Linked DNA regions of Homo sapiens: region 2 is linked to region 1. Evidence: fine-mapped expression QTL. A gene starts in region 1. The other region holds a variant in brackets. All regions are shown on one strand. Distances are between the middles of the regions.

The links.
Region 2: its variant is fine-mapped to the expression of GDPD3 in whole blood (TOPMed, PIP above 0.99).

The regions. Positions count from the first base shown.
Region 1 is chr16:30,110,580-30,115,937 of GRCh38, forward strand. It overlaps GDPD3 (glycerophosphodiester phosphodiesterase domain containing 3), which reads right to left and starts at 2,958. Exons shown (of 10, transcript NM_024307.3): 1 at 2,761-2,958; 2 at 2,443-2,485; 3 at 2,079-2,214; 4 at 1,944-1,989; 5 at 1,727-1,845; 6 at 1,553-1,642; 7 at 809-942. The coding sequence starts at 2,899. MAPK3 (mitogen-activated protein kinase 3) reads right to left here. Exons shown (of 9, transcript NM_002746.3): 9 at 3,526-4,129. RefSeq lists a silencer at 2,929-3,223.
Region 2 is chr16:29,985,085-29,990,442 of GRCh38, forward strand. It overlaps TAOK2 (TAO kinase 2), which reads left to right. Exons shown (of 16, transcript NM_016151.4): 14 at 129-494; 15 at 574-777; 16 at 1,181-3,309. The coding sequence ends at 2,896. Among named protein-coding and RNA genes, the nearest start is that of HIRIP3, 7.9 kb to the right of the region's middle. The variant T/G (reference allele first, on the strand shown) is at 3,083.

The DNA of each region.
Region 1 (5,358 bases):
AGCAAAGGGAGACCGGGCCCAGGGGCTCAGGTATGTAATCCCAGCACTTTGGGAGACCAAGGTGGGAGGCTCGCTTGAGCTGAGGAGTTCAAGAGCAGCCTGGTCAACATAGTGAGACCTTGTCTCTACAAATAATTTAACAATTAGCCAGGTGCAGTGTTGCACGCCTATACTCCCAGCTACTTAGGAGGCTGAGGCAGGAGGATCTCCTGAGCCCAGGAGGTCGAGGCGCAGTGAGTCATGATCTGGCCACTGCATTCCAGCCCGAGCAAGACTGTCTCAAAAAAAAAAAAAAAATTGTAAAGCAAAGGGAGGGACTAGGCTTAAGTGCCAGCGAAGTATCCAAATTCCTGATCCTTTCCCCAGCTGTTACTTTGTTAACCCCTGCCTTCCTGCAGAACACTGACTTGGCCTTTTCCTGCTGAGGGTCTGAGACAGCCGTGCTATAATTAATGAACGAATGTCTCCCCAGCCAGACTGTAAGCTCACCAAGGACCTCTCCCCACCCTCACTGGTCTCATTTACACATTATAACTGCACCTGGGACAGAGTAGACATTCAATAAAATATGCTAGATGGCCTGAGATGGATAAATTACCTCTCTATCCTAAAACTCCACATATGCACAGAATTTCAGGGTGTTCACAGTTCCCTTAGTATTCATGAATGCTGGGTAAGAACCACTGTCCTTAAAAGACCTTGGGGGTTATCTCTGAGGGGAGCTGGGGAGCTGGGAAGATCTGGGCTCCTTCTCCACGGAGACCCTAAGCAGTGGGGAGTTTTTCTGAGGTCCGCCCCCCACTGGTACCTGTTGATGATGTTGGGCAGGAAGCAGAAGAAGAACTTCTCAGGGATTGGGATGAAGGGCAGCAGCCCCAGGTAGTAGGAAAGCAGCACCCAGAATCCTCGGCTTATTGTGAAGGACAGGGGCATCTCGGGGTTCTGGGGAGGCAAGGAGAGGCATGAGAATCTGTCTGCTCTGGGGAAGCAGAGAGGAGGCATGAGCTGCAGGGGAGCCGTGGTGGGCATTCCAGAGGCCCTACTACCTGCAGGATCCAAGTCACATCTTGGGGCTGGGTGTGGTGGCTCACGCCTGTAACCTCAGCAGTTTGGGAGGCTGAGGCAGGTGGATCACCTGAGATCAGGAGTTCAAGACCAGCCTGGCTAACATGGTAAAACCCCATCTCTACTAAAAATACAAAAATTAGCTGGGCGTGGTGGCGTGCACCTGTAATCCCAGCTACTCGGGAGGCTGAAGCATGAGAATCGCTTGAACCCAGGAGGCAGAGGTTGCAGTGAGCCGAGGTCGCACCACCGCACTCCAGCCTGGGCGACAGAGAGAGACTGTGTTTCAAAAAAGAAAAAAAACAAAAGTCACATCTTGGCTCTGTGTTCGAGGCCTGAGTTCACACCCTTTTCATTGCCACCGCCACGCCACTGGGAACTCTCCCAGACCCCTCTAGCTCGGGTCCCCATGCTGGGTGGGCTCCAGCTCTGGGGAGGAGGGGCCCCTGGAGGAGGAAGAGGACGGGGGAGGGGTGGGGGGACTCACGGCAGCCTTGCATTTCTTCATGACCGAGCTCTTCTCCGAGGCCCAGATGGTGATTTCATTACGGTCATAGCGTCTCACCAAGCCTGCTATCTGGGAGGAGGAGAAGGAGGTGAAGGGAGAGCCAGGCCTCTCTCACGCCCCCGGTGGCCGCCCTAGCCCTGCCTGCAGCACCACCTCACGGATGAGCTCTTCGTTCTTCCCTTTGATCTCTACGCTCATGGGTGTCCTTGGAAACCTCTGGAACAGGTCCTCCAGACGAACCATGCGCCGGTCTGACCCGTGAGCAAAGTGGCCTGGGGGTGGTGTGGGAAAAGGGGTCAGAGGGAAGCCAAGGCGGAGGTCCAAGGAAGGCAGGCATGGCCCAGGCAGGGCTCGAAGCCCTTGCTCTCACCTGGAGAGAAGTAAACCTCCAGCTTCTCCTTGTAGAGGGGCAGGTCCTGGGGAGGACAGGAAGGATGTCACTAGAGGCCCGCATTGGGCATGGTGACTCTCAGGGTGGGGGTTGGGGTGTCAGGGCAGGGCCCACCTCGAAGTCCAGGCTGCCCACATCCCTGTTTAGGCCCGACTGGCGGCACAGGTTCTCATCATGTGACACCACCACCACTCTGTCCCGTGTCAGCTGACAGTCGAGCTCCAGGAGGTCCGAGCGCTGGGCCATGGAGCTGTGGGGGTGAAGGTCAGCGGGGGGCAGGGGCAGGGGACTGGGATGAGGGGCATGGTGGCTGGGAGGTGGCCGGGAATGTGAGAGCGGAGTTCGTGGCGGGATGTGCAGGCCACCTCCAGGGGGCGCCAGTCACCCAGCTAGGAAGTGAATGGCGTCCCTTGCTGTGATGCAGTCCACGACCTGCACACCCTCACATGGCAGCCTGGGCAGGGGCAGATACACTCACTTCTCCATGGCCTCCATGGTGTTCTCCAGCAGCTCTCCAGATCCTGTGGGGGGCACTGGAGTGGGCCTCTGGGGCTTGGGGTCTAGGGGCCTGGCCCAACCTCATCACCCACATTCCCTCTCTGGGCTCCATCCTCCCTCTGGCCTCACCTCCCCAGCCAGCCCAGGCTGCGCCAGCATCTTCTTCCTCGTCCACACCCTGCCCTGCCACTTCGCTCTCCTTCTCTCTTGGTCCCTGCCCCGTTTCTAGCATGCCCCCTTGGACCTACCCCTCTGTGCTGTCCACTTTGGCACCTGTTCTCACCCCTACCCGGCTCACCTCCTCGGTGGGCCCCCAGGCGGATGCGGAAGGTGGGAGCCCTGGGCGTGTGCAGCAGATGAGGCCGGCGCAGGAAGAAGATGGAGAGCATGGCATAGCTGCCCAGGGCAGGGAGGGCATAGTACAGCAAAAGGCTCATGACCGTACTCCCACAGAAGCTCCTGCAGCCACACGCTCAGCCGTCCGCGGGACTGTGCTGCCTGCCTAGCCAGTGTGGGCCGGCTCTACTACTGGCCACTGCCACGCCCCTGGGACCTGCTGAGCCTGCCGCTGGGCTGGCTTGGAGCCAGGCTGCAGGGTTCGGCTGAAGCTGGGGTAGTGTCAGGAGGTGAGGCAAGTAGCCCTGGCTCTCATATCCCCAGGCCCTTCCCAGCCCCCAGCAGCCCCGTCCTGGGCTACATGAGGGGAGTAAAAACCACCCAGGACTGTCAGGACCTCTCCCTCTCACTGGTACTTGTAGCCAGCGCATCCAACATGCCTACCCCTTGCCATTTCAGAGGATCCAGGGGTGTGTAGGGTGCTCCTGAGTCACCCCGAATCACCCCCAGCCAGTTAGACAGGAAGCCATTAGCGAGAGGACAGGACAGTGACTAAGGGGAAAACTGACCCCCTTCTTTCTAGGAGTCTGGAGCTCTCCAGAGCCCCGTCCCCAGCCCTGGGCAGCTGGGAGTGAAGGGCACCAGGCCCCTGAAAGCCCAAGTCAAGTCTGTCCTCAGAGCCGCACGGGGCAGGGCGGGGGCGTCGCGAACACAGACAGAGCCAGGGTCAGCCATAGACACATCTCTATATTTATATATTAGACGGGTCAGGGAGGTGGCAGGGGCGCCGGGCTCTCCACGCCCCCCAGCTCCACTTCTGCTCACCACACACAGAAGCAGCGAGGGCACGCGAAGTGACAGCTTTGACAGGGAGGGGATTCGGCCCGGCCTGGCTCCTCAGGGATGCTAGCCCTTGAGACTAAGGAATGTTCCTTCAGGGAAACTAGGGTGGGGTTTGAATGAGATGAGGGGGGCAGGCATGGCCCTGAGTCCCTACTCAGCGCCCCCCACCCTCCACCTCTGCCCTTCAGCAGGTTGGGGCAGCCAGAACCCTTCCATTCCAGAACTGCCAGAGACTGGGACGCTGGGGAAGGTAAGGGCGCAGCAGCAGCAGCGGGAGATTGAACTGGGGCCACCTGAGGTCCCGAGGCCCCGTGGGGAGGGCGGGTGGGGAGGAGAAGGCCTTGGCCTGCCTGAAGCTGGAGGCCTCAGCAAAGGAGAGAGGTGGCCAGGCCCATGCTCCACCCCGGCCTGGGCTGCCAAGGTCCGGGCTGGGCACAGTGTCCATTTTCTAACAGTCTGGCGGGAGAGGGGCAGGCAGGAGGCAGGTCCTAAAGAGAGAAGCAGGCAGAAGAGGAGTCGTTAGCACCCCCCGGGCAGACCCACTGGAGCCCTGACCTCAACATCTCTCATTTCACCCTCACAGCTGGATAGGCTGGGTCTCAGTTTCCTTATCTGTAAATGGAGATAATAATAGTACCTAGCTTGAGGTACTGCTGTAAGATTAAAGGAATTAATACATGTAAACCTCTTAGAACAATGCTTAGGGCTTTATGCTTTCATTATTAGAACTGTCTCGGCCGGGCACAGTGGCTCACGCCTATAATCCCAGCACTTTGAGAAGCTGAGGTGGTGGATCGCTTGAGCCCAGGAGTTTGAGACTGGCCTGGGCAACATAGCAAGACCCCAGCTCCACAAAAAAAAAAAAAAAAAATTAGCCGGTTGCAATGGCTCGTCCAGCTAGCTGGGAGGATCCCTTGCACCCAGGAGTTTTGAGGCTGCAGTGAGCTATGATTGCACCACTGCATTCCAGCCTGGGTGACAGAGCGAGACACTGTCTCAAAAAAACAAAACCAAAAAAAAAGATAAATAGATTGACTCCGGAAACTGAGGCGCCGAGAGGTGAGGTGCCTTGCCCAATATCACACAGCACTTACTAAGTGGCACAGCTGGAGTTTGAGCCCAGGTGCGCATGCCTTCTTTCTATCAGGCCACACCTGGCTGAAGACAGGAAGAGACCGGAGGAGGCAAGGAGGCAGCGTGGGTGGGGGCAGGCCAGTGGGGTCCCCACAGCTATGTGAACTGCTGATCTGGCAGCAGGTGTGAGGAGGCCTGGCAATCTGGGTCAGGCTGGGCGCTGCTGGGCCCCTCCCAAAGCAATCATGGCCCCACCTGCTTCTGCCACACCCAGAGCTGAAGCTTGGCTCAGGTCCTCACCTGGGTGACAGAGGCCCTCAGTGACCTCTTGCCTCTTTGCCAGTTCTGTTCCTAGAAGGAGATTAGAATGGCTTGTGGGGCTGGAGGATGCAAGGTGTTGACAGGCAGAGACATTTGGGGCTGGAGGACTCGGTGGGCCACCAGTCTGGGCAGCCTTGGGCATTTTTTTTTTTTTTTTTGAGATGGAGTCTTGCTCTGTAGTCCAGGCTGGAGTGCAGTGGTGCGATCTCGGCTCACTGCAACCTCTGCCTCCTGGGTTCAAGCAATTCTCCTGCCTCAGCCTCCTGAGTAGCTGGGATTATAGGCATGTGCCACCACACCCAGCTCATTTTTGTATTCTTTA
Region 2 (5,358 bases), 130 kb before region 1:
GAGGAAGGTGTTAAATGAGAATGAAACCCATGAGTTGAAAACCCATGCTCTTCCCCACGGAAGACCCCTTGTGTTAATTAACTAGGGGCCAGGCTGAGCCCCAGCTCTCACCCTCTCTCCTTCCCCAGGTCAGCCGTCAGATCCAGGAGCATGAGCAGGACTCTGCGCTGCGGGAGCAGCTGAGCGGCTATAAGCGGATGCGACGACAGCACCAGAAGCAGCTGCTGGCCCTGGAGTCACGGCTGAGGGGTGAACGGGAGGAGCACAGTGCACGGCTGCAGCGGGAGCTTGAGGCGCAGCGGGCTGGCTTTGGGGCAGAGGCAGAAAAGCTGGCCCGGCGGCACCAGGCCATAGGTGAGAAGGAGGCACGAGCTGCCCAGGCCGAGGAGCGGAAGTTCCAGCAGCACATCCTTGGGCAGCAGAAGAAGGAGCTGGCTGCCCTGCTGGAGGCACAGAAGCGGACCTACAAACTTCGCAAGGAACAGCTGAAGGAGGTGAGCTAGGGCTGCTTGGGGGCGGAGCCGATGGCGAGCCAGGTGGGTCCTGACCCTGCTTCCCTCTGCACTCGCCCAGGAGCTCCAGGAGAACCCCAGCACTCCCAAGCGGGAGAAGGCCGAGTGGCTGCTGCGGCAGAAGGAGCAGCTCCAGCAGTGCCAGGCGGAGGAGGAAGCAGGGCTGCTGCGGCGGCAGCGCCAGTACTTTGAGCTGCAGTGTCGCCAGTACAAGCGCAAGATGTTGCTGGCTCGGCACAGCCTGGACCAGGACCTGCTGCGGGAGGTAGGCATCCCAATCTCTGTTCCCCTCCCGCTCACTCGTGGATCCCAGGGACCCACCCTTTTCCATTTTCCTCATTCTTGTCTTCTTTCTCCTTGGCCCTCGAGTGTTACAGTTCAGCTTTGCTTCAGTGCCCCTTTTACTTCTCATCCCCAACAGACCCTGCCAGAATTTCCTTAGGCCTCTTTTCCCAGGCCAGGGAGGAGCTTGCCTCCCCTACACCCTCATCTCCTGCCATCCCCAGCTCCCTCTGCCAAGGAGCCCTGGCCCCTCACTTCCTTGATACTGACCAGGCCCTGGGCCCTGTGTTTCTTCCGCCATCCCCAGCTCCCTCTGCCAAGGAGCCCTGGCCTCTCACTTCCTTGATACTGACCAGGCCCCGGGCCCTGCATTTCTTCTGCCTCAGGACCTGAACAAGAAGCAGACCCAGAAGGACTTGGAGTGTGCACTGCTGCTTCGGCAGCACGAGGCCACGCGGGAGCTGGAGCTGCGGCAGCTCCAGGCCGTGCAGCGCACGCGGGCTGAGCTCACCCGCCTGCAGCACCAGACGGAGCTGGGCAACCAGCTGGAGTACAACAAGCGGCGTGAGCAAGAGTTGCGGCAGAAGCATGCGGCCCAGGTTCGCCAGCAGCCCAAGAGCCTCAAAGTACGTGCAGGCCAGCGCCCCCCGGGCCTTCCACTCCCCATTCCTGGGGCTCTGGGCCCACCCAACACAGGCACCCCTATAGAACAGCAGCCCTGCTCACCTGGCCAGGAGGCAGTCCTGGACCAAAGAATGCTTGGCGAGGAGGAGGAAGCAGTTGGAGAGAGAAGGATTCTGGGAAAGGAAGGGGCCACTTTGGAGCCCAAGCAGCAGAGGATTCTGGGGGAAGAATCAGGAGCCCCTAGTCCCAGTCCACAAAAACATGGGAGCCTGGTTGATGAGGAAGTTTGGGGTCTGCCTGAGGAGATAGAGGAGCTTAGGGTGCCCTCCCTTGTACCCCAGGAGAGGAGCATTGTTGGCCAGGAGGAGGCTGGGACATGGAGCTTGTGGGGGAAGGAGGATGAGAGTCTTCTGGATGAGGAGTTTGAGCTTGGCTGGGTCCAGGGCCCAGCACTGACTCCCGTCCCTGAGGAGGAGGAAGAAGAGGAAGAGGGGGCTCCGATTGGGACCCCTAGGGATCCTGGAGATGGTTGTCCTTCCCCCGACATCCCTCCTGAACCCCCTCCAACACACCTGAGGCCCTGCCCTGCCAGCCAGCTCCCTGGACTCCTGTCCCATGGCCTCCTGGCCGGCCTCTCCTTTGCAGTGGGGTCCTCCTCTGGCCTCCTGCCCCTCCTGCTGCTGCTGCTGCTTCCATTGCTGGCAGCCCAGGGTGGGGGTGGCCTGCAGGCAGCGCTGCTGGCCCTTGAGGTGGGGCTGGTGGGTCTGGGGGCCTCCTACCTGCTCCTTTGTACAGCCCTGCACCTGCCCTCCAGTCTTTTCCTACTCCTGGCCCAGGGTACCGCACTGGGGGCCGTCCTGGGCCTGAGCTGGCGCCGAGGCCTCATGGGTGTTCCCCTGGGCCTTGGAGCTGCCTGGCTCTTAGCTTGGCCAGGCCTAGCTCTACCTCTGGTGGCTATGGCAGCGGGGGGCAGATGGGTGCGGCAGCAGGGCCCCCGGGTGCGCCGGGGCATATCTCGACTCTGGTTGCGGGTTCTGCTGCGCCTGTCACCCATGGCCTTCCGGGCCCTGCAGGGCTGTGGGGCTGTGGGGGACCGGGGTCTGTTTGCACTGTACCCCAAAACCAACAAGGATGGCTTCCGCAGCCGCCTGCCCGTCCCTGGGCCCCGGCGGCGTAATCCCCGCACCACCCAACACCCATTAGCTCTGTTGGCAAGGGTCTGGGTCCTGTGCAAGGGCTGGAACTGGCGTCTGGCACGGGCCAGCCAGGGTTTAGCATCCCACTTGCCCCCGTGGGCCATCCACACACTGGCCAGCTGGGGCCTGCTTCGGGGTGAACGGCCCACCCGAATCCCCCGGCTACTACCACGCAGCCAGCGCCAGCTAGGGCCCCCTGCCTCCCGCCAGCCACTGCCAGGGACTCTAGCCGGGCGGAGGTCACGCACCCGCCAGTCCCGGGCCCTGCCCCCCTGGAGGTAGCTGACTCCAGCCCTTCCAGCCCAAATCTAGAGCATTGAGCACTTTATCTCCCACGACTCAGTGAAGTTTCTCCAGTCCCTAGTCCTCTCTTTTCACCCACCTTCCTCAGTTTGCTCACTTACCCCAGGCCCAGCCCTTCGGACCTCTAGACAGGCAGCCTCCTCAGCTGTGGAGTCCAGCAGTCAC[T/G]CTGTGTTCTCCTGGCGCTCCTCCCCTAAGTTATTGCTGTTCGCCCGCTGTGTGTGCTCATCCTCACCCTCATTGACTCAGGCCTGGGGCCAGGGGTGGTGGAGGGTGGGAAGAGTCATGTTTTTTTTCTCCTCTTTGATTTTGTTTTTCTGTCTCCCTTCCAACCTGTCCCCTTCCCCCCACCAAAAAAAGAAAAAGACAAACACAAATAAAATATCTGAGCGGAACTGTGCCTTTGGCCCAGGCTGCCTCTGTCTGCTTTGTCCTGCCGCCTAGCCTCCCCGGTATGCCCCCAGGCTGACCCTCGGCCCGGCTCCATGACCTCTTCACCCCATCTCCGTTATCTCAGCCCCCTCACTCCTCCAGCCTCATGCTCTCTGCCTTCATAGCTTCATTGCACCATGACCACCACCGGCTCTGGGGTCTGGGCCCCTGTAGAACTTCACCGAACTTCTTGGTCCCACAGAGCGCCTGTTTGCGGGTTCCTTCCAGAGGTCTTAGTTTCCAGGCCCTTGGTCTCCTCATCCCTTGCCTTTTCTCCCAACCATGGCTGCAGGGGACCAAATTGCTCTCCTGCATCAGGCATTACCCTAGTGGGTTGGGGGACGGGGCTGCAGACCCTCCACAGTAGGGGGTGCTGAGCTGGGGGCAACCAGGCGGAGTATGAAGGCTGTGGCAGCAGGATTGAGTGTGGGCCTGGAGTGGGAGCTGAGTGTGTGAGGGGCCGGGCTGGAATGCGGATCTGGTCAGGGTGGTAGCTGCTGGCCGGTTGAACTTGTCAGGCCCTTTCTGGCCACCTCCTTTGCCCCTTTCTCCTCTGCGGCCCAAAATGGGGCAGCCCCTTCTTACCCATTTCTCAGCTCGGTGCTTCTCCTCCTTCCCTGCCTTCCTCCCTGAGCTGCTGGACCTGGGACTTCCTGTGTCTGTCCTTAGTCGTGTTGCTTTCTTCATGGGTGTTTTGTGTGACTGGTTCTTCTCGCTTGTTCTCGTGCACGTTCTCATATTTGCTCACGTGCTTCTGTCTCTAGGTCACAGTCTCTCCCTCTTTGCCTGGTCAGAGCTTCCAAGATCCTCAGTTCCCTGTCCAGTAACTCCGATGTTCTTTCTCGTGGGTATCGCACCCAACTCCGTGCACGTGCTCTTGGAACCTCTTGTCTTCTCTGCATCTCTTGCCCATCGAGACCTTCCTGATCTCTCTCAACACGATCCCACCTCTCCATGTCTGTCTGTCTGTATACAGCTCCCCCCACCCCCTCTGTCTAACATGTTTTCTGTTTCTCTCCCTCTCCCTGTCTCTGCTTCTGTCTCCTCTCCTCTTCTCTCTCTTCTCCCCATTTCCCCTGGTTGTTCCTCCTCTTCCTCTTCCTCCTCTTCCTCCTCCTCTTCCCCGCTGCCCCCATCTCCCCTTGATCCGTCCACTGCATAGTCTAAGGAGCTGCAGATCAAGAAGCAGTTCCAGGAGACGTGTAAGATCCAGACTCGGCAGTACAAGGCTCTGCGAGCACACTTGCTGGAGACCACGCCCAAAGCTCAGCACAAGAGCCTCCTTAAGCGGCTCAAGGAAGAGCAGACCCGCAAGCTGGCGATCTTGGCGGAGCAGTATGACCAGTCCATCTCAGAGATGCTCAGCTCACAGGCGGTGAGGCCTGGGGTCCAGGGAGGGAGTGCGCTAGAGGCCAGGCTCTGTACTTTGCTTTAGAGAAATGGACGGTGCAGGGCATGCACAGAGCTGGGGCTTTTTTACTTGGGAAACTCACATACTCTCCCTCTGTTCGTGTTCTCCACAATGATTTATTTCATATTCTCCTCAGTGGTTTTATTCTTTCTCTTAGTATTTTCTTAAGGTCTTGACAAAGCCATGTGCCTATTCCCAAGAACCACCAAGGAAAAGAGTGGCTATTATTTTTTTCCTGGGCCTGAGTTAGTTTAATGGGTAAACAGGGTGCAGATTAAAGTGAGTGTGGCCCTCAAGCCCATTTACTCAGACTTCTGGAGGATTTTGAAAGTTGCTGTTCTAAAAAAATGATCACACCTAACACTGGAATGGGCCACTTAAAATGTGCGGAGAGGGTGGAGAGTGGAAACGCCCCACCCAAGGCTGTTCTCTCACCCAGTCCCACCTCTCCCAGGTAACTTGTTAATAATTAACTGTATTTTGTGTTTTTTCAGTGCACATTTTGAAAAATTATATGAATTTTAAACACAGATGGAATCATACTTTACATTTACTTTCTGTAACTTCTTTTTTCCACTTAATATTTCTTGGACATCTTCCC